Linked DNA regions of Homo sapiens: all the other regions are linked to region 2. The links come from fine-mapping of genetic effects on gene expression. A gene starts in region 2. Each other region holds a variant in brackets. All regions are shown on one strand. Distances are between the middles of the regions. Region 1 overlaps SMOX (spermine oxidase). Region 2 holds the start of CDS2 (CDP-diacylglycerol synthase 2). Region 3 overlaps CDS2 (CDP-diacylglycerol synthase 2). Region 4 overlaps CDS2 (CDP-diacylglycerol synthase 2).

Region 1 (5,147 bases), 970 kb after region 2:
GAGTCAGTGTCCCCAGCACCACCCAGCACAGAGATCCACCCATTCTGCAGCCTGGGCACTTGACACCTGGGAGGTGTGAGCTGGCAGCTGAGGGGGTGGCTTCCCGGTGGGGCTTCTCCCCTATCCCTGCCAGGAGCCGCAGCCTCACAATTCTGGGGTGAAGGAGAACAGCTCAGTCAGCACTTTCCGCTGACTCTTTCAAAACCACTTACAAGAACTGAGGCCTGTGAGCTCAGCCGGGCGCAGTTCCCCCTCAGCGGCCCCTCGTGACTCTGCACAAAGCCCAACTGTGCTTCAGCTCCAGCCCCGGGGAGGGGGTGGGGTCTCCGGCAAGCCCATCCTGCCTCCTGAGCCACAGGGTCCCACTCTGCCCAGCCTGGGACCTGTGCTTTCTGCCCACAAAGAGACACGACAGCCCCAGTGTCAGAGCTGTCTGAGCCGTGCTGGATCCAGGCAGCCTTCCTCCCTGAAGGTGGAGACGGGCCTTCCTCCACTGTAAACCCTTTTCCAGCACAAATACCTCTCTTATGGTGTCCACACAACGTAATTTATCATAGAGCCAAGGTGGCATGCATGATCACAAAACGAAAAAAGGAAAATATCCAAAGAAAAATCGAGTCACCAGATGAACCTCACAGCAAACCTCTATTTTGCCCCTCCTGTGCCAGGCCCTTTGCTGGGCACTTTCCATTCACTGCATCCTTTAATACTCATAAACTCTCTGCTGCCCATTTTACAGATGAGGAAACAGGCCCCAAGAGGTTCAGAGGCATGACAGACGCCACCTGGATGGAGTGAGGGGCAGGGCAGGGCAACACTGCTCAATCCCTGCTCCGACCTCAGGCCCCCCTACTCAGCCTCCCCAGGGGTGCGGCAGGCCCGAGGACTGCCCTGGCTCAACGATTCTCCCATCTTACTCCTCCCCACATACTGATATGCACACACTGTGCCAGGCACTTGGGGCTGGCAGGAGTCATCTCAAGGCCTGATGGTTCACTCCAGCTTCACTGCCAAAGCCTGGGGCTGCCACCGGGAAGCTACCTGCTTTCTGGCCTGGGCGCTTAGTGGGGTCCCTGCAGGTCACCCTGGTCTCCCTGCCCCATGCAGCTGGATTAGGCTTGCCAGGCACTAAACTAGCCAGGCCTCAGTCCTTCACCCTCGATCTCCTCCTCCATAAATAGGGCCAGGGACAAGTTCTAATTGCATTGGCCAGCACAAAAGAAAATTCAAAAAGCAAGTAACTCATAACTGCCTCTAGACGGTCCTCGATCACTGGCCCGAGACCTTCCCCTCCTGGTGACTTCAGGGTACATTAACTGTGCTCTCCTAAGAAGACCACAGGATTAACCAATAAAGCACTTTCCATAGAATTCAACCATGAAGCACAGTCCCCCACCCACGCGAGGGCTGGAACCAGGTCTCAAAAGCCACTGGGGTTCATTTCAGAATGCACACAGGGGCCATGCGCCCATGATTTCATCCATAAGACCCCTATGAAGTGGAGACGCTGAGTTTGGACATAAACATATTCTTTAGGCCCTTTTGTGGAGTTCAAAGAGAGAATAACTCACTAGCTTTTGAAGCATCAAGAAAGGTCTGTTCTTAAAATCCTATCATCATTGTTATCACTCTATTTTTAGCTGAATACACCTGAGATACAGAGTGCAGTGCCAAGCATTTTGTGTGGAATACCTCAATCCTCACATCAATACCCCCATAGTACAGAGGAGGCAACTGAGATTCAGAGAGGTTCCACAGCCTGCTATCAGCCTGCCTCTAAATTTTACTTAGTAATATATTAAGCCTCAGGCCTTGCTCTTTTTAAAATCTAATGAAGAAGCAGCTGGGCGCAGTGGCTCACACCTGTAATCTCAGCACTTTGGGAGGTCGAAGTGGGCGGATCACTTGAAGTCAGGAGTTTGAGACCAGCCTGGCCAACATAGTGAAACCCCGTCTCCACTAAAAATACCAAAATTAGCCGGGCGTGGTGGCAGGCACCTGTAATCCTAGCTACTTGGGAGGCTAAGGCAGGAGAATCGCTTGAACCCAGGGGGCAGAGGTTGCAGTGAGCCAAGATCGCGCCATTGCACTCCAAGAGTGAAACTCTGTCTCAAAAACAAAAAAAAATCTAATGAAGAAGTCAAGTTCATTATCTTTCCTTGAGTTACTTTTTAAACTCCAAACCTTTTCAGATTAACTCTCAAGGTTTTGCATTGTGTATGATTTTTTTTTTTTAATTTTCCAAAATAAGAGAGAGTAAAAGGTCCCTGTGTGTTTAACATTTAAAGGCATCATTTAAAAATATTTCCTAAGAATATATGCCCCTTGGTGGTGCTGGGTGTCTCCTGCTTGAGTCATCCTAAAATCTAGCCAACTCAGCCTGCAAGGAGTATCACCACCACCCGCCAGGATCAGAGGTGCGCTGGCTGAGCTGGGCTGTCCCGGAGATCTGGTTATGGGTGGGGAGCAGTTGAAGGTATGAGGACAGGCTCTGAGAGAGCCATGGGGTTGACGAAAGGGCATCGAGACAGATGTCCCAGAAACTGAGTGAGACCCATCATGCCTCACTCAGGCCCCCGGGGCTGCATGGGGAAGACAGGACCCATGTGTCTGCCAGGGCCTAGCACAGAGTTGGCAGGGGTGGCTAGATTCTTTGTTCTGTTTTCTAATAAATTGCAACTCACTTCCAAGTTCTTGTTCTTCTGACTTTAAGTCACACCTTCCTTAATGCCGTCCCTCAAGAAGCAGGTGGAGAAGAAGGGAATCTGGACTAAGGGGTGCTGCAATGCCCCCAGCTAGGCCACCATGCTCCACCTGAATCCAGATGCTTTTCCTCATCCTCCAACCTCCCAGCCCCAGATTTAGAGAGCACTGGGCTCCTACATGCTTGAGGAAGAAAGACAAAGGGGCAAAGGAGGACAAGAGAGGGGAGCTAGGGCTGGGTAGGAAAATCCACTGAGCATGCCCCACCAGGGCCTTCGGGTCAGGTCGGAGGGCCAATGTTGCCCCACGCACCACCGTAGCTCCTCCTGGGTATTTAAAATACCACACCCCGACCGGCGCTGTGGCTCACACCTGT[C/A]ATCCCAGCACTTTGGGAGGCCAAGGCGGGCGGATCACGAGGTCAGGAGATCGAGACCATCCTGGCTAACAAGGTGAAACACCATCTCTACTAAAAATACAAAAAATTAGCCGGGCGTGGTGGCGGGCGCCTGTAGTCCCAGCTACTCGGGAGGCTGAGGCAGGAGAATGGCGTGAACCCGGGAGGCGGAGGTTGCAGTGAGCCGAGATCGCGCCGCTGCACTCCAGCCTGGGCGACAGAGCGAGACTCCAACTCAAAAAAAATAAAAAATAAAAAATACCACAGCCCATCTCCCCCACCTGAGCTGCTGAACAAAGAGCCTCACACCACAGAGGAAAGGAGGTGTGGCAGAGGCGAGGCAGGGTAGCCTCACTGACTGCCCTGAGAGTCTGAGAATGAGGGTCACGTCCGCAACTTGGCCCCTCCCCCAGCTTCATGTCCATGAAGGGGCACAGCACCGCCCCCTCCCACAGCCCACCATCACTCACACCCTGCCTCATGTCTCACTAATGCACTGCTCTGATCACATCACTGCCCTGCTCAAAACCTTCTGTGGGCTGCCACAGCCCAGTGAACGAAGGTAGTCCCTGATGCCTCCTCCCTGCCCGCAGGCCACTTGTCCCCTACACACACCCACCAGGATCCTCTGACTCTCAGACTCAAACCTGTGACTTCTCATTCTGTCCAGATCTCCCCACCTAACTGGCCATTCCTCCAGGAAGCCAGTCCTGCTAGCTACCCACACCCTCTTTCTTCTCCTCTGCAGGCTACTCTGGTCTAACCAGGACCCCAACCTAAGCCTTGTGCCGCTTTCTGCTGGCTCTTGCTTTCTTCCCTCATGTCCACGATGACAGGGCCCTCCCCAGGGTCCCTCCTCCAGCCATGTCAAATCCAGTAGTAAGAGCAGCCAACCGGTATTAGAGTGTCACAACAACCCAGCCACCCTAGGAGGGAGGTAATATTACCCTCATGGTACAAATGAGGGAACGGAGGCACAGAGAGGCTTAGCTTATTGTCCAGAGTTCACAACCCTGCTGTGTTAACCTCTGAGATGAAAGGCTGGGGAGAACTTGCAAAGCGAGGAAATGCCCGGGAGGTATAAGGAAAAGGCCCTCTCAGAATCCAGAAGATGGCCGGGCACAGCGGCTCACATCTGTAATCCTAGCACTTTGGGAGGCCAAGGTGAGCAGATCACCTGAGGCCAGGAGTTCCAGACCAGCCTGGGCAACACGGTGAAACCCCACCTCTACTAAAAACACAAAAATTAGCAGGGCGTGGTGGTGAGCGCCTGTAATCCCAGCTACTCGGGAGGCTGAGGCAAGAGAATTGCTTGAACCCAGGAGGTGGAGGTTGCAATGAGCTGAGATTGCGCCACTGCACTCCAGCCTGCGTGACAGAGTGAGGCTCCATCTCAAAAAAAAGAAAAAGAATCCAGAAGACCCAGGCCCAGCTACCTGGGGATCCCAGGCACCAGACAGGTCCTTCCAGATCCTTCCTCATTCACCCAGTGAGGCAGAGCCATTGCCACAAGAACCCAGGGCTGGCTCTCGGCCCAGAAATACCAGGGAGAAAAGGAAGGATGGCAGGGAGCTTCCTGGTAGAGGTGGGATGGGCACATCTGAGGGCCCTGGTCAGTTGAGGTCCCACCAGGCACTGGCAGGGGGGTAGCAGTTGCTACACCCAAAGGAAGGTGGGGAGGCAGACATGGGGGGCAAAGATTTACAGATGAAGAAACTGAGGCCTCAGAGGGGAGCCTGGCATCTCTCTCTCTGCAGTGCCCTCTTCTTCTACTGATTGTCCAAATGTGCCCATCCCACCAAGTCTACCTCTACCAGGAAGTCCACCTGTGCTACCATGTTCGTGGCCTTCCAGTGAGCAGCATCTTTCCACATCAGCTTTTCCCAGCAGGTGTTTTCCTGGTGGGTGGGACATTATTGGCAGTCATTTAAAAAAAAGATTTCCACGGTCAGATCAGGCTGGGAAACACTAAACAGTTTCTTTTCTACAGGACTTGTCAGGACCTTTAATTCTCTTAAATGTATTCTGAATCTCCCGTAGGGTAGTGGAG
Region 2 (5,147 bases):
TTGCTTGAACACGGGAGGTGGAGGTTGCAGTGAGCCGAGATTGTGCCATTGCACTCCAGCCTGGGCAACAAGAGCGAAACTCTGTCTCAAAAAAAAACAAAAAAACAAACCAACAAACAAAAGTTTACTATATACATTCAAAGACAAATAATAGATTTCACAGTTTTTAAAATGTTCCCTTATTAAAAATCCCAAACATGGCCAGGTGTGGTGGCTCACGTCTGTAGTCTCAGCACTTTGGGAGACCGAGGCGGGCAGATCACGAAGTCAGGAGTTCAAGACCAGCCTGGCCAATACAGTGAAACCCCATCTCTACTAAAAATACAAAAAAAAAAACGCCAGGTACAGTGGCTCATGCCTATAATCCCAGCACTTTGGGAAGCTGAGGCGGGAGGATCACCTAAGGTTGGGAGTTTGAGGCCAGCCTGACCAACATTGAGAAGCCGTGCCTCTACTAAAAATACAACATTAGCCGGGCATGGTAGCACACGCCTGCAGTCCCAGCTACTCGGGCGGCTGAGGCAGGAGAATTGCTTGAACCTGGGAGGTAGAGGTTGCGATGAGCCAACATCATGCCATTGCACTCCAGCCTGGGCAAAAGAGCGAAACTCCCTCTCAAAAAAAAAAAAAAAAATTAGCCGAGCGTGGTGGCGGATGCCTATAGTCCCAGCTACTCAGGAGGCTGAGGCAGGAGACTAGCTTGAACCTGGGAGGCAGAGGTTGCAGTGAGCTGAGATCGTGCCACTGCACTCCAGCCTGGGCGACAGAGAGAGACTCCGTCTAAAAAAATAATAATAATAAAATCCCATACATGACAATTCAGTGACAATTGAGAAGTTCTGAATAATGGGGTGAGGAACTGATTGTCTTGTTCTCGGTAATGAACATCAGGCTTTTAACAGAGTGCATAGCAGCTGTCTTTTAGGAAACAACACGCCACAAGTGGACCTCATGACCCCAGGCATTCTGTCACTGTATAAGTGATATAAGTGCACCTCTAGCTGGACAGCTCCTCAGGTCCTCCCAGTCTAAAGTACAGGATGTGAAAGTAAGACGGTTCAACTCGCACTTTATCTCTGGGGGATGGATCCAACGAGTCCGGGAAGGAGGGTAGAATCTTTATGTTGCATCTCATAATCCCAAGGTTGTTTTTTGACATTCTAATTATTGTACATAGTTAGCTTTTCAAAAACATGGCCCACCAGCTATCATGCCTTCTTTCTTCTCTCTCTCCTCACACCTTCTAGGTCCACAAAGTCCCACTAACATCAAGCATGATCTCACCCTTAAACAGAGCTACAGAGCCTCCAAACATCTGCATACTCACCAACTAGTAGTACAAGGTAAGTCAGAATTCTTTCAGGCTGAACCAGGATAGCCAAATGAAAAATTAGAGACTTCAAAGTATCTTGTCTCTGCAAGCGACTGCTAAATCCTCAGCCCCAGCCCTAAATGTTCTCCAAAATATGTTTTTGTTTTTGTTTTTTGAGACAGGGTCTCAAACTCCTGGGCTCAAGCGATCCTCCTGCCTCAGCCTCCCTAGAAGCTAGGATTACAGGCGAGCAGCACTGTGCCTGGCCAAAATATATGTTCTAAAAATCGGTAGGAACAGTTCTCTTTGGATAGTCCACTGTCAACTGCAATAACACGAAAGTTGTTTAAAAAAAACCCATGATCTCATTATCTTTCACCAAAAACATTCCTCCTAGTGTAACTGCTCTGTTGACATCCTGTCACCAAATCTTGTGCTTTCTTCCTTCTGGGTGTCTCCCTAATGTCCGTTGCGTCCAGTCATCAAAAAGTTACAGGCTGCATTAGGGGAAGCCGTGAGCCTGGTGTAAGGCAACAGGGATTGGTGGGAACCGATGATCCTCAGCTCCAGCCAACCATTGAGCAGGTGACAAAGTGATGGTGGACCCTCCAATTATCTAAGACAGGCAAGAAATTTAGATTGTTAGGAGAAACTTTCTGATTTTTAAGGCAATATGTGGGCCAAAGAAAACATCTACAGGTCACTCATGGGCAATCCCGAGTGAACCAGGCTCCCTCAGTCTGGTCCAGGCTCCCTCAGTCCCTTCTACACATCACTGTCTGATCAGTTTCCCAAACACAGGGCTCCTGATCACTGCTATCTCGGAAAGCACAACTACTGCTACAAAGTCCTATACTGCCATTCAACCTCCACAGTAATAAAACCAATCCCTACCTTCCTTAACTCCCCTACACAGATCTTTCACTTCACCCAAAGGAGTCCACTCCCCCACCCGTCACCCCCGCCACTGTCCCCGCCAAGATGGCCTCCTTCCTACTCTCCTCCCCTACCCACCAGAGCCCACACGGTGCAGGAAACAACCCATCAACCGGGAGGACGCCCTCCAACACCTGCTGATGACGGACTGGCTCACTGGGTAACACCCCTTTGCTCAAAGCCGATGATTTCATGCCCAAGAAGGGATTTACATCTCCCAGGAGGCAAATGCTATGGCCTTGTCCTGATTCCCCCACCCCCCAAAATAATAACATTGTAAAAGGGAACGGAGAGCCTAAGTTGCGCTCAGAGGAGCCGCCTCCCTAAGAAGGCTCTGCATATCTTCACCTCCAGGAAGGCCTCACGGAGTTGGGGGAGAGGGGAGTCCCCGCAGCCAGCCCAGCGAGGCAGGAGGCCGTGCGCCACTCCCGAGAAGCTCCTTCCTGCGCCCCGGGGGAGCCACTTCAGTCAGACCCTGAGCCGGGACCCCGACCCGCCGACCCCTGACGCGCGCGCCGCGAAGGCCGGGCACCCGAGGGCCCTTCGCGCTACCCGGGCCCGGGGCCGCCGTCGGCTGCGACAAAGGGTCAGAGAACAAGACGACCCCTCTGCGCGCGTCCCCCGCAGGCCTCCCGGATGCGCCGCTGTCCCGGCCGCGCCCACCCCGACGCTGCCGCTACCTTGTCCTCGGGTGGCGCAACCGGCTCATGGGCCACCCTCTGCCTCAGCTCTGTCATCCTGGGAAAATCGGCCCGACGTCGCCGCGAGCTAGCAGCGAAGCCGCCGGAGCAGGCAGCTCGGCGCGGGCACGCGCGGACTCCCACGGCCGGCCCCGCCCCGCCCGGGAGGCGCGCGGCTCTGAGCGGCTCACAGTTCCCTTAGCAGCCCAGCAGCCAGCCCTGGAGCTCGGCCCCACCCAGTGCCGTCACCGCCCTTTCACCCGGGCCGAGCGGGGTCAGCCTTCCCTAGCCCCGACCCGAGAGCTCCCTCTCCCGGGAGCAGGGCTCGGAGCGAGTGCGCACGCGCAGCGCCACCATCACGGTCCGGAATATCCACCAATGGCGCAAATACGCCAGGGAGGCAGGGCGACGGGGGCGGGGCGGGGCGGAGCAGAGTCGAGAGGCGCGCATTGGACGGCAGCGTCAGGGGCGGGAAAAGGCGTGCGTTTCAGTGTGCGATTAGCCAATGGGAGCTCCCGCTTAACCGCGGATGGCCGGAGCTGGCGCCCTGGTTCTGGAGGTAACCGGTTACTGAGGGCGAGAAGCGCCACCCGGAGGCTCTAGCCTGACAAATGCTTGCTGACCTGGGCCAGAGCTCTTCCCTTACGCAAGTAAGTAGACGTTATTTAGGTCGAATGGAAAGGCCAGGTGAGCCGACCTGGTTAAGAGCATTTTATCACTTATCACATGATGAGAAATGAAACCCACGCTTCAGTCTGCTTTGCTTTGCCAAGCGGTCGCTAGTACTTGTTAAGCACTAATTGTATACTAGGCACTGAGCTGAGTAATCGCTTTAGTTGGCTTATCTCGTTTAATCCACACATGGCTTGGAAGTGGGTATGATTTGAATTTTACAGTTAAGATCTTCCTCAGTGGTTTGTTTGTTTGTTCGTTTGTTTGTTTGTTTTGTGACGGAGTCTCGCTCTGTCGCCCAGGCTGGAGTGCAGTGGCATGATCTCGACTCACTGCAACCTCTGCCTCCCGGGCGCAAACAATTCCAAGGTGCGCGCCACCACGCCCGGCTAACTTTTGTATTTTTAGTAGAGACGGGGTTTCACCATATTGGTCAGGCTGGTCTCGAACTCCTGACCTCAGGTGATCCGTCCGCCTCCGCCTTCCAAAGTGCTGGGATTACAGGCGTGAGCCACCGAGCCTGGCCCTTCCTCAGTTTTTCAAATTTGTCTTCTGGACTATGGAAAGACCTTTTTTGGGACAGAAGTGCTGTCTACTTTGTTTACTGTGCATCCTCTATGTCTTTGACACATCCATTGTAAGTACTTGTTGGATGGATTTAAAACTTTTAAAAGGACCTTAGCCAAGGTCTCCCAGCTAGAAAGTGCCTAGTAAGAATTAGAACACAAACAGGTTTGTTACCAGCCCACACTCTAACCACCATACTATACTGCCTGCCTGCATTTATTAATACTTGTGTTGCTCCAGCATTGCCTTTGGTGTTTCCTGTTCTTTCTATTCACTGCCCTGTAAGTGATGTAAAACACATATAACACTGCGTCCCCAACTTAAGCATACTGTAATCTCACAATGAGACACTTGCACACAAAAGAATTGCAATTTCGTTTTTTAAAAAAATATAATTTTACATTTTTCTTCTTTTCAATTTTTAAATTTTAATTAATTTATTTCTCCTTTTTTTAGAGACAGGGTCTCACTATGTTGCCCAGACTGGTCTTGAACTCCTGGGTTCAAGAGATCCTCCCGCCTAGGTCTCCCAAAGTGCTGGGATTACAGGCATGAGCTACCATGCCTGGCTAAAATTTCCTATTGGTAATTTTGACCTGAGCTGTGAGTTTTGGGGCAGGTAGTGAGAATTCTGAAAACAGCATTATATATTCCTGATTTCTATATGAGTATATGCCCGAGTAGCTTGGACTACAGGTGTGCAGCACCACACCCAGCTAACTTTTAAATTTTTGTGTAGCGATGAAGTCTCACTTTATTGCTTAGGCTGGTCTTAAACTCCTGGGCTCGAGCAATCCTCCCACATAGGCCTCCTAAAGTTCTGGGATTACAGGCATGAGCCACAGCACTCGAGCAAGATGATCTTCTAAGACAGGTGAAGATGTTAGTGTCTAGAACTTCACCTTCAGGGGCACGTAGGTATGAAAGGTCATATCTAAGTGAGTGTCATGTCAGTCCTTCTAGAAACTCAGCTGCTCCTT
Region 3 (5,134 bases), 61 kb before region 2:
GTGGTTTTAGTGAAGAAGTCATGGTGCAATTGAAATCACTGTAAGAAATAAGTGACTTTTAAAACAAACACAGACACACACACTCCTCTTAAGAGTAATATATACACAACACAGCAGCTACATGGGTGTTCAGGCAAAGGGTGCATGAACGAGAAGCCCTCTGCTCCCTGCCCGATGAGAAAGTCCCCAGAAAGGATTCAGCAGCAGCAAGTCTACAGCACAAACATGGATGGCATTGTCCCTGAAAACACACAGTTAGGTGGACCTACAGGAGACATTGGAGCCTAGACATGTGGGAAAGGGCTCAGTTACAGTACATTCTACTGCATACACTTGAAATATTACAGTGTGTTTTTTCTCCAGACTATTATAAATAATTTTTCGTGCTTTCTGAAAAAAATAAAAACTGAAACTTTCAGTCTGCGATGAAGGTGAACCCATCTTATAAAGCAGAGCTTACTTACATTCTGCAGGATTTTGGTGTGGATGCATAGAAGGCTTACCTGGTTAGTAAGCCTCCATTCCTCCGACCTACAGAAGGCAACCCTTCTGCAGCTCCAAGCAGGGATTTCTAGAAAAGACCAGGTGTACAAAACATCTAAGCTGTGCCTCCCACCACAGGTGGGGAAGTCCCCTGATTTGGTCAGACACAGATGAATGTCTGTGTCTGACTGAGCCCAGAAACAGTTCAATTGATGGGGGCTGGAACCACCAAGAAAACACTCCTGACCTGGGCAACACTGTCTTCCAGATTATTAATACTTTTGTTTTAAAAAAATCCAAATGGTTTTACAACCCGTGACTTCTTTCCAACTCAAAGCTGTAGTTTACTTACAACACAAATTCTAAACACATAGACTGTATATACAGATTTTTTGAACCCACAAATAAAAAATACCCTCCAAAAAAAAAAAAAAAAGACAGTGAGTTGAAGCCTCGTCATTGTCTAAGTCACACCAGCTGGGCTTGCCTTGGAGACCTGCCCCTGCTCAGTTCTGTTCCTGTTCTCCTGGCCCTGGGTGGCCCCTACTCGTCCTCTGTGGTGGATGTCAGCATCCCTTTGTCGATCAGATGAGACCGCAGCGTGTTGAAGATGTGGAGCTGCTGATCTGGCCGTAAAGTCAGGAACTGCTGAATCAGTTTGCTTGGGTTAGGGCCTCTGGAACAGAATGTGAAGAAACAGCACTGAGCTAGGGCCCGGAAGCTTCCAGGGCCTGATTATCTGAGTGGCTGCTCTGATCTCTGGATCAGAGAGTTATCTATTAACAGATGACAGGAGGCCTCAGAAAATCTGTAAGCAGAAACAACTGAAAACTGCATTATTTGGGATGCTTTTCACTGGAACTTAGATGCCGCTAAAATTCTAGAATTGCACCGTACTTAAAAATCCACCAACTTGGTTCAGATGGAAAGGTACTATACCTGATAAAACTGGCGATGTATACATTGACAAAGGTGGCCATCAGATACTGGCAGTCAAAGCGATCCATGATGCCTCCATGGCCAGGAATGGTATTGGCAAAGTCCTGTTAGAGGCAGGGGAAGGATGGGTGAACTTGGGCTCAGCCACTAACCAATCCCAGCCTAATGGTCCCACCCCAATGTCAGGCTTCTGTGCTGAGTAGCTGAGGGCAATAGAAGGTGAGAAGTATGAAATCTAATGGTGAGGCTATATTAGGACACAATTTTATTGCATTACAAAATGTTCTTATTTCATTTACTTAATAAAGACAGGAGTCTTGCTATGTTGCTCAGGCTACTTTCTAACTCCTAGCCTCAAGTGATCCTCCCGCCTTGGCCTCTTAAAGTGCTGGGGTTACAGACATGAGCCACTGCCTGGCCCAAAATGTTCTTTTGAAGAAAGATATATTAACAAATAAACTGAAAAACAACGATTGCATTTTCCTGAAAATATTGTTATTAATTAACTCACCTAAATTCAGTGCATGGGTCAAGATCACACATTAAATGCCAGGGTGTACAGCCTAGTATTTTGGAGGGGGCAGGGAAGGGGGAGAAAGGCAGAAGATGGGTGAGGGAGTGAGATGAGAGGAACGTAAGACGGTTTTCCTACTTTGATTTTAAAGGCTCGTTTGAATCCACTTGCGAAGAATCCTCCAAAGGGGCCAATGAGCGAGGCAAAGGTGGAGAGAGCGATGCTGTGAATCTGGAAGGGGTACATCCGGACCGTTTTCTGAGAAGAGTAAATGAAGTAAAAGTTTAGGTGCATACATGCCCAGTGTTACGGTTTGAGTTGTCAACTCATGTTGAAATTTGATCCTCATTGTGGCCTCACTGGGAGGTGATGCCTAGTGGGAGGTGTTTGGGTCACAGGGGCAAATCCCTCATGAATGGCTTGGTGCCTTTCTCCTAGTAGTGAGTTCTGTCAAGAGACTAGATTAGCACTGGCATCCCGAGGGAATGGGTTGTTATGAAGTGA[T/C]GAAGCCCCTGGTTTTGCCTCTTTGCATGTGTCTGCTTCCACCTTTGACCTTCTCCGCCATGTTACAATGCAGCATAAAAAGCCCTCACCAGAAGCCAGGCAGCAGCCAATGCCACACTTCTCACACTTCTCAGCCTGCAGAAAGAAGCTAAGTAAACCTCTTTTCTTTGTAAATTACCCAGCCCCAAGTGTTCTATCAACACTAGACAGACCAAGACATCCAACCTCGTAACTCTTTATGAAACTAATTATATACATGTAGGTTTTAAATCAATAAGAGGAGTGAATTTTTCCCATTTTGTAAATTTCTAATATCTAAGTTAATGGAAAACATTAAAATATTCTGCATTCAATCTGTTGCAACATGCTGTTTTGGTGGAAGTATATAAAGAAAATCCAGCCGTACGCAGATACATAGTTGAAAAGAGTATTTTAGTCGTAGCCTCAGATGGTTTTGGGTATTCTCTGACACTACACCAGAGCTTGACAAGTAGTCATTTCTTGAATATTAGGTGTGATATGGAATCTAGAATTCTATCAATGGACTTTGTTCTCTCTTACATTAAAATCCATTGGTCTATCTTATACTTGAACGGATCTTTTACCCATGCATGACTATATAACACCATGCATCAGCCATTTAGAAAATAATGGTTCACTGAGTTATGTAAATCTTCCAAATGTAGACACATTTCATTATACCGTGTCAAATATGTTTGTGTTTTTTCTCATGTGATCAACACACACACACACACACACACACACGTACGTTAAGAATCATCACAGACCTCATCAGAAAAGGCTTTTAAGTATTAGGAAGCTGTCAAGTTCACAGTGGCAGGTTAAGCTTTCCAAAATTCTAATTTTCATTTGAAAGCCAAATTTTATCCTTGGTAACAATTACTGTCAGTCATTTTTCTTTTCTTTTTTTTTTTTTTTTTGAGACAGTCTCACTCTGTCACCCAGGCTGGAGTGCAGTGGTGCGATCTTGGCTCACTGCATCCTCCGCCTCCTGGGTTCAAGCAACTCAACCTCCTGAGTAGCTGGTAGCTGGGATTACAGGCACACGCCACCATCCCCAGCTATATTTTTTTGTATTTTTAGTAAAGACGGGGTTTCGCCATGTTACCCAGGCTGGTCTGGAACTCCTGACCTCAAGAGATCTGCCTGCCTCGGCCTTCCAAAGTGCTGGGATTTCAGGTGTGAGCCACTGTGCCTAGCCTCAGTTGTTTTCTTTAAAGTGATAGGCTCACTTCATCCTTTTCAAGAAAAATGTCTGCCAAATACCCAAGTCTGAAAAATTATAATTTGTTGGTTCTTTCCAAGTAAAATTTACTTTCTTTTCTAAAAAAAAAGCAGCTAATTTAGCTCACAACTCAAACAACTGCACACATGCTTTCCCTTTAGGCAAGCACTGTACTACAGTACTTAGCAGAAATGTTTTACACATACTTTCCATTTCAGTAGAGAGTGTTAAAAAGGTGTGTGTACAAAGGTCAAGATTTAACAAAATTAGTAACTTTACTATTTCATAGACATTCATTAGAACTGGCCTGTTTGTACTGTGAGTGTGTGGCATGAGGAACCCACTGCCTTAACGCAGTTTTAACCACTGCTGCTTTTGCGCCGTATCACAGCAAATGTCAACACATTGAAAAAGGAAAATAATGTCATAGTCTAATTATGAAACAGTTGTGACCTCACAGACCCCCCCACCCTACCCCCGCAACTAAAAGGATCCCAGGGCCCTCCAGGGATCCACAGAACACACTTTGAAAACCACTGGTCTAAACAATCTGATGTTGGGGGAAAGCTGTCCTGCCCATACCCTGACCTGGCGTGAGCAATTCTCCTTCATCCTGGGGCTTACAGCTTTGGGAAGGAGGAAGCTAGCTTTTTTCAGAGGGCAGGTGATGGAGGGGGATCTCTCTTTGTAGCCACTGTCCATGGAGGCCGCTCACCCCCTGTGAGTGGCACATACCCAGCCAATGACTGACTGGATCACCCCAGGAATGTTGTACTCCTGCAGGCGAAACAGGTCCGAGGGCTCACAGTCCACAGTGAAGCTGTTGGTGTCATTGTTGTACTCCACAGGGCAGACAAAGCATCTGTACCCGGACATCACATAGGACAGCTGAGGAGGAATAACAGAGAGACCGGCAAGGAAGTAAGTTCCAACCATCCAGCCCAGACACAGGCACCTGGTTTGGCCATGTTCCTGAGGGTGCCTAGTACCCTGCTAACTGCGAGCTATGTGCTCAGAGGTTCATGTTTTACCATACATATTTTACCTCAATTAAAAAAAAAAAAAGAGGCTCATGACCCACCAAGGTTACATACAGGAACCCAAACACCCAGGCCCCGAAAGAATCCGGGAAAACCTGAAGGGACTGGGGCAAAGAACTACAAGAAGACTCTCCCCATTTGGGGAGCTAGGACCACTTTCCTCAAGATCTCTGAAGTCAGTGATAACTGGAGAGAGGCCATGGGGAAGGGGCACAGTGAGAGGCAGATCTCAGGAGGAACAAGGCTGGAAAGCAACAAAGCTGGGCGGTGAGCACTGAAGGGCAGCCAGACAGTGCTGAAGAAGGAGGACTGGCCCAAGGGTCAGAAGCAGAGAATGGTGCTCTGGAAAGGGCAGGAAAATCACCCACCTCTGGGCAAGGCACACATAGGAGAAAAGCTGTGTATCTC
Region 4 (5,147 bases), 35 kb before region 2:
TCCGCCTCGAGACCATCATCTCTGTGGGGGAGCCATGTTGACTTCCTCACCACTGTACCCCCAGCACCTGGCCTGGCACCTAGAACCACATCTGCAGAGGCAGCCAGAGCCAATGATGCTGAGAGAATCCAGGGTTTGCTGAAGTGGCAGGTGTAGCTGGGCTACATGTCGCGTAGGCTGACAATTCATTTTTGCACTCAGTAGCACTAGAGGAGGCATTTTAGGGCTGCAGCCAGCTGTCCCACTGTTTATCTCCCCTTCTTCTTAGACATTTGTGGCCAAATGTATCCTAAGCAATACGGGGGTTTCCAAAAAAAGTACAGAATCTGTATGTCTCAGAAAGGATGAGGAAATCCTGTCTGAAATCCAGCTTCTAGGAATGCAAGGCTTTCTAACTCAAATACGTACAGTTGTACTGAGTCCCAACCTCTGCATGACTGCCAGTCTCATACATTAAACCCATAATTTTTGTGACAAGGAATGACCAGGAATCCTTTCTCCCAACACTCTCTCCCACCTTGCCCATTGAAGCCTCCTTCTGGAGTAGATGCATCTGTTTACTAACAGCAAGCATATGACTATAAATATGAAATAGCTGCAGGAAGTACCAACCTCCATCACAAGCCATTACTTAATTCAGAACAGAGACTATCAGAGACAAGAAAACCACTCAGGTCCCCAGGAGGCTCTGCCAACGGCTCTGTTCCGATGACATCACTTGTTTTCCTATTGTCTTCCAGGGTTAGGGGAAAGACACCAAAAATCAGAAGCCCCACTGGAGTCCAACGGGTCCTTCTATTATCAGTTCCTTAGTCGGGCATCTCTATTTAGTATTTAAGGGAAAATGAGTTTTCAGCGCTACTGGGGAAGGAAGGAATTTTTTTTTTTTTTCAGTTTATTAAGATAAAGCTCTCCCAAGGAGGGAGTATGTCTAATACTGCCAAAAGATCTAGTAAGATGGAGAAGAAAAATATATTCGCAATCTCAAAACTGGGCTCAAGTGTGCTCCCCAGACCTCTGTCAGGAAGTAGAACCAGGACAGCTGCTGGGCTCCACATGCGACGAGCCCCTAAATCATAAATCGCCATCTGGTACCTGCTTCACTGTCACTCACCTCACAATAGTGTTTTCTACAAAGATTCCTAGACAAAATAAGTAGACATGAGAGCAAATGTCCCCAGTGTCTCATGCCCCAACCTCCCCTACTCCTGTGGGCAGACAAGCACCCTGGGGCTGTTTACCATATTGGAACATTATATTGTCACTTTTGTAGTATTCCTGGTTTATAACCAACCATCATGGAATCAAGTACCAATCAAATAGACTGTAACTATTCAAGGGAGAAACTAGTATGTTTCTCCCTTGAAGAACATGGAATTAACAGTGTTCTCAATCCCAAATGTGTCATATTAGTTATAGAAGAAATTATGGGGTGGGTGCGGTGGCTCGTGCCTCTAATCCCAGCACTTCAGGAGGCCAAGGTGGGCAATCACCTGAGGTCAGGAGTTCAAGACCAGCCTGGCCGACATGGTGAAACTCCGTCTCTACTAAAAACACAAAAATTATCCAGGCGTGGTGGTGGGCACCTGTAATCCCAGCTACTTGGGAGGCTGAGGCAAGAGAACTGCTTGAACCTGGGAGGTAGAGGCTGCAGTGAGCCGAGTTTGCACCACTGCTTTCCAGCCTGGGCGACAGAGCTAGACTCTGCTTCAAAAAAAAAAAAAAAAAGAAAGAAAGAAATTATGAAAGCCACAATGCTAAATAGTTTCTTTCTCTTTTTGATAAATCACTAAGGATACCTGGGGAAAAAATTAAATTGAAAATGAGAAAGTCTTTGAAGAAACATTCCTAATGGCCAACGATAGGACAATTTGAGCATTAAAATAATAAACAAAAAGTGATTTAAACACAAGTATATGAAAATTTATGAGTTCATAATGATAACTGTAAGAAACTACTGGCCAGGCGCAGTGGCTCACGCCTATAATCCTAGCACTTTGGGAGGCCGAGGCGGGTGGATCACCTGAGGTTGGGAGTTCGAGACCAGCCTGACCAACAGGGAGAAACCCTGTCTCTACTAAAAACACAAAATTAGCAGGGAGTGGTGGCCCATGCCTGTACTCCCAGATACTCAGGAGGCTGAGGCAGGAGAATCGATTGAATCCGGGAGGTGGAGGTTATGGTGAGCTGAGATGGAGCCATTGCACTTCAGCCTGGGCAACAAGAGCAAAACTCTGTCTCAAAAAAATAAATAAAAATAAAAACGAAACAAAAAAAACTACTTTGGCCACCTCTGAAGGGTGCTGAAACACCAAATCTTTTTTTGAAAACCAGTAATTAAAAGGAAAGAGCCTCTCTACATTGCCCAGGCTGGTCTCGAACTTCTGGCCTCAAGTGATCCTCACGCTTTGGCCTCCCAAAGTGCTGGGAGAATAAGCATGAGCCACAGTACCTGGCCATCAAATTACTTTCAAATATCCATTACCCCAGCAAAGAAAAGTCAATGTGGCCTCAGTATGATCTCCCTAGGCTCTGGAGACTAAAGTGCATCTTCAAACATAAGTAAATAAAACAACCTCCATGCTGCCAAATCAGACAGATTCCCCTGCCTTCATCTTATCATATATCTTGGCAATGTCAGATCTAGTTGACCATTTCCTCCTTGAAACATTCTCCTCTCAGCTACCTCCATACCATACTTATCAGGTTCTCACTCTACCTGACTGGCTGCTCTTTCTCAGTCTCCTGTGACTTTGAAGTCTACCTGACTTCAAAATGTTGAATGGGCCCTGGGCTCAGTTCTGGACCTACCACACTCTCTCCCTAGGTATCATCATCCAGCCCCTTGGCTTTAATTACCAATTCCATGCCAATGACCCCAACATTTGTATCTCCAACCCCAACTTCTCCCCCAAGCTTCAGATTCATATTTCCAACCACTTACTGACATCTCCA[C/T]GAGAAAGTTCTTACAGGCATCTCAAAAGTAACACATCTAAACAGAACACTTTTGACATTGTCCGTAAAACTACTGATCCTGAAGTCTTGCCTAGTCAATCAGTTGACAGCATGCGAGTCTATATACCCTGCATAAGCCAGAAACCTGAGAGGTAGCGATTGAATACCCCTTAACCAAAATGCTTGAGACCGGAAGTGTTTTGCATTTCAGAGTTCTTTTCAGAATTTGGAATATTTGCATTATACTTACTGGCTGAGCATCCCTAATCAGAAAATCCTAAATTCAAAATGCTCCAATGAGCATTTCCTTTGAGCATCACATTGGCACTCAAAAAGTTTCAGATTTTGAAAATTTCAAATTTTTGATTTTGGGATGTTCGACCCTTAATTCTTATCTCCCTATCTTCCCCCAGGTACTGGACACTGCAGTTGGTTCCCTCCTAAAAATCCATAAACTATTTCATGGTATACAGCAGCTTGTACAGTCTACTTATTTTTAATTCTGCCCCTCTGCCACAGTGATAGGTTCACGAACAGGCATTTACCCCAGCCTAAGGCAATGTGCACCTTGACTGTTTTGGAGTAGGCACTTGACCCAAGATGGTACAAGCAGTTCAAACAGCAAAAATAGCTAATGGCATTTTAGGCTATATTAACACAGGCATGGTCTGGTTCTAGTTAGCGTTAGTCAAACTTTACTTAGAGGCCAAGTACGTCCAATAGAGTGGTTAAAACAGTAAGGAGACAAAAAAGAGCAAGACGATAAAATGAACAGATGAAGAAACCAGAAGGGCTAGGCCTGGAGACAACTGGGAAATGAGCATACTCTACTGCAGTACTGAAAAGGAGAAACTGGTTTTATGTCCCTAACAAGGAAAAATTATTAGGTAAATTACGGTAAATCAACTTTCTGTGCAGCTATTAACAAGACTACTATAAACACCGTGCAGCAACATGAAAAAGGCAGAATATAAAACTATGTCTATACTGGATTATACTACTTACACAAAGTATGTGTCAGTTATCAATGGATTGCCTCTCAATGTATGTGTCAGTTATCAATTGATTGAATCCTTGGGACTCTGCTGGGCTTGGATCAATCCCTTTCAGGTCCACTGCTACCTCCAGGTTTTGTCAGTATAGAACTTTCTGCAATAATGGAAATGTTCTCTCTATACTGTCCAATATGAGAGCCACAGCTGTGTGTGGCTTATTGAACAATTAAAATGTGGCTAGCGAGACTAAGGAAGTGAATTTATGTATTTATTTTTAATTAAATTTAAACTGCCACACACTTCACATCCACTAGAGTGGCTATTTTCAAAAAAGAAAAAAGAAAAACCAAAATAACAAGTACTGGAGAAGATGTGAAAAAACTGAAACCCTTGTGCACTGTTGGTCAGAATGTAAAATAATGCAGCTGCTATAGTAAACAGCCTGGCAGTTCCTCAAAAAATCAAATATAGAATTACCACATGACTCAGCAATTCCACTTCTGGGTATATACCCAAAAGAACTGAGGGCAGGGACTCAAAGAGATATTTGTACACCCATGTTCATAGCAGCCTTATTCACAATAAACAAAAAAGTAGAAGCAATCCAAGTATCTATCAACAAAGGAATGAACAAAATGTAGTATACATATACAGTGGCATATTATTCAGCCTTAAAAAGGAAGGAAATTCTCACACATGCTACCACATGGATGAACCTTGAGGACATTGTGCTAAGTGAAATAAGCCACACACAAAAGGACAAATATATGATTCCACTTACATGAGGTACCTAGAGTAGTCAAATTCGTAGAGACAGAAAATAGAATGGTGGTTGTCAGGGGCTGGGGGAGTGAGAGGGGAGAGTTGTTTAATGGGTACAGAGTTTCATTTGGGGAAGATGAAAATATTCTGGAATGTTTGTTCTGGTGACAGTTGCAAAACAATGTTAACGTACTCAATGCCATAGAACCATACACTTGAAAATGGTTAAAATTATCAATTTTATGATATATATAATATTTAGCCACAGTAAGAAAAGGTTTAATTGGCCACATGTGGCTAGTGGCTACTATACTGGACAATGCAGACAGTCTAACAGCTGTATCCACCCCAACCTGCAACCAGGAAGAAAACTGCTAAGGCTCCCCAAAACTCTGGTTCCCCTACTACTGTGAGGAGGGGGCTAGAACCCCCAAC

The links. PIP is the estimated chance that this variant, and not a neighbour inherited with it, causes the effect.
Region 1: its variant is fine-mapped to the expression of CDS2 in cerebellar hemisphere (GTEx, PIP above 0.99).
Region 3: its variant is fine-mapped to the expression of CDS2 in blood mononuclear cells (TOPMed, PIP 0.99).
Region 4: its variant is fine-mapped to the expression of CDS2 in whole blood (INTERVAL, PIP above 0.99). The same link has a PIP of 0.9 or more in monocytes after Pam3CSK4.

Annotation. Positions count from the first base shown.
Region 1 is chr20:4,156,106-4,161,252 of GRCh38, reverse strand. The region is part of intron 1 of SMOX (spermine oxidase); the gene reads right to left. It overlaps LOC124904861 (a long non-coding RNA gene), which reads left to right. Exons shown (of 2, transcript XR_007067504.1): 2 at 1-2,690. Among named protein-coding and RNA genes, the nearest start is that of SMOX, 9.9 kb to the right of the region's middle. RefSeq lists enhancers at 1-489, 3,116-3,616, 5,145-5,147. The variant C/A (reference allele first, on the strand shown) is at 3,080.
Region 2 is chr20:5,124,931-5,130,077 of GRCh38, reverse strand. It overlaps CDS2 (CDP-diacylglycerol synthase 2), which reads right to left and starts at 3,070. Exons shown (of 13, transcript NM_003818.4): 1 at 2,929-3,070. The coding sequence starts at 2,985. It also overlaps a transcript of PCNA not described here. RefSeq lists enhancers at 2,232-2,321, 2,898-3,399 and a silencer at 2,662-3,581.
Region 3 is chr20:5,186,127-5,191,260 of GRCh38, reverse strand. CDS2 (CDP-diacylglycerol synthase 2) reads right to left here. Exons shown (of 13, transcript NM_003818.4): 10 at 4,422-4,574; 11 at 2,075-2,194; 12 at 1,423-1,526; 13 at 1-1,159. The coding sequence ends at 1,027. Among named protein-coding and RNA genes, the nearest start is that of CDS2, 62 kb to the right of the region's middle. RefSeq lists a silencer at 642-711. The variant T/C (reference allele first, on the strand shown) is at 2,441.
Region 4 is chr20:5,160,373-5,165,519 of GRCh38, reverse strand. The region is part of intron 1 of CDS2 (CDP-diacylglycerol synthase 2); the gene reads right to left. Among named protein-coding and RNA genes, the nearest start is that of CDS2, 36 kb to the right of the region's middle. The variant C/T (reference allele first, on the strand shown) is at 2,956.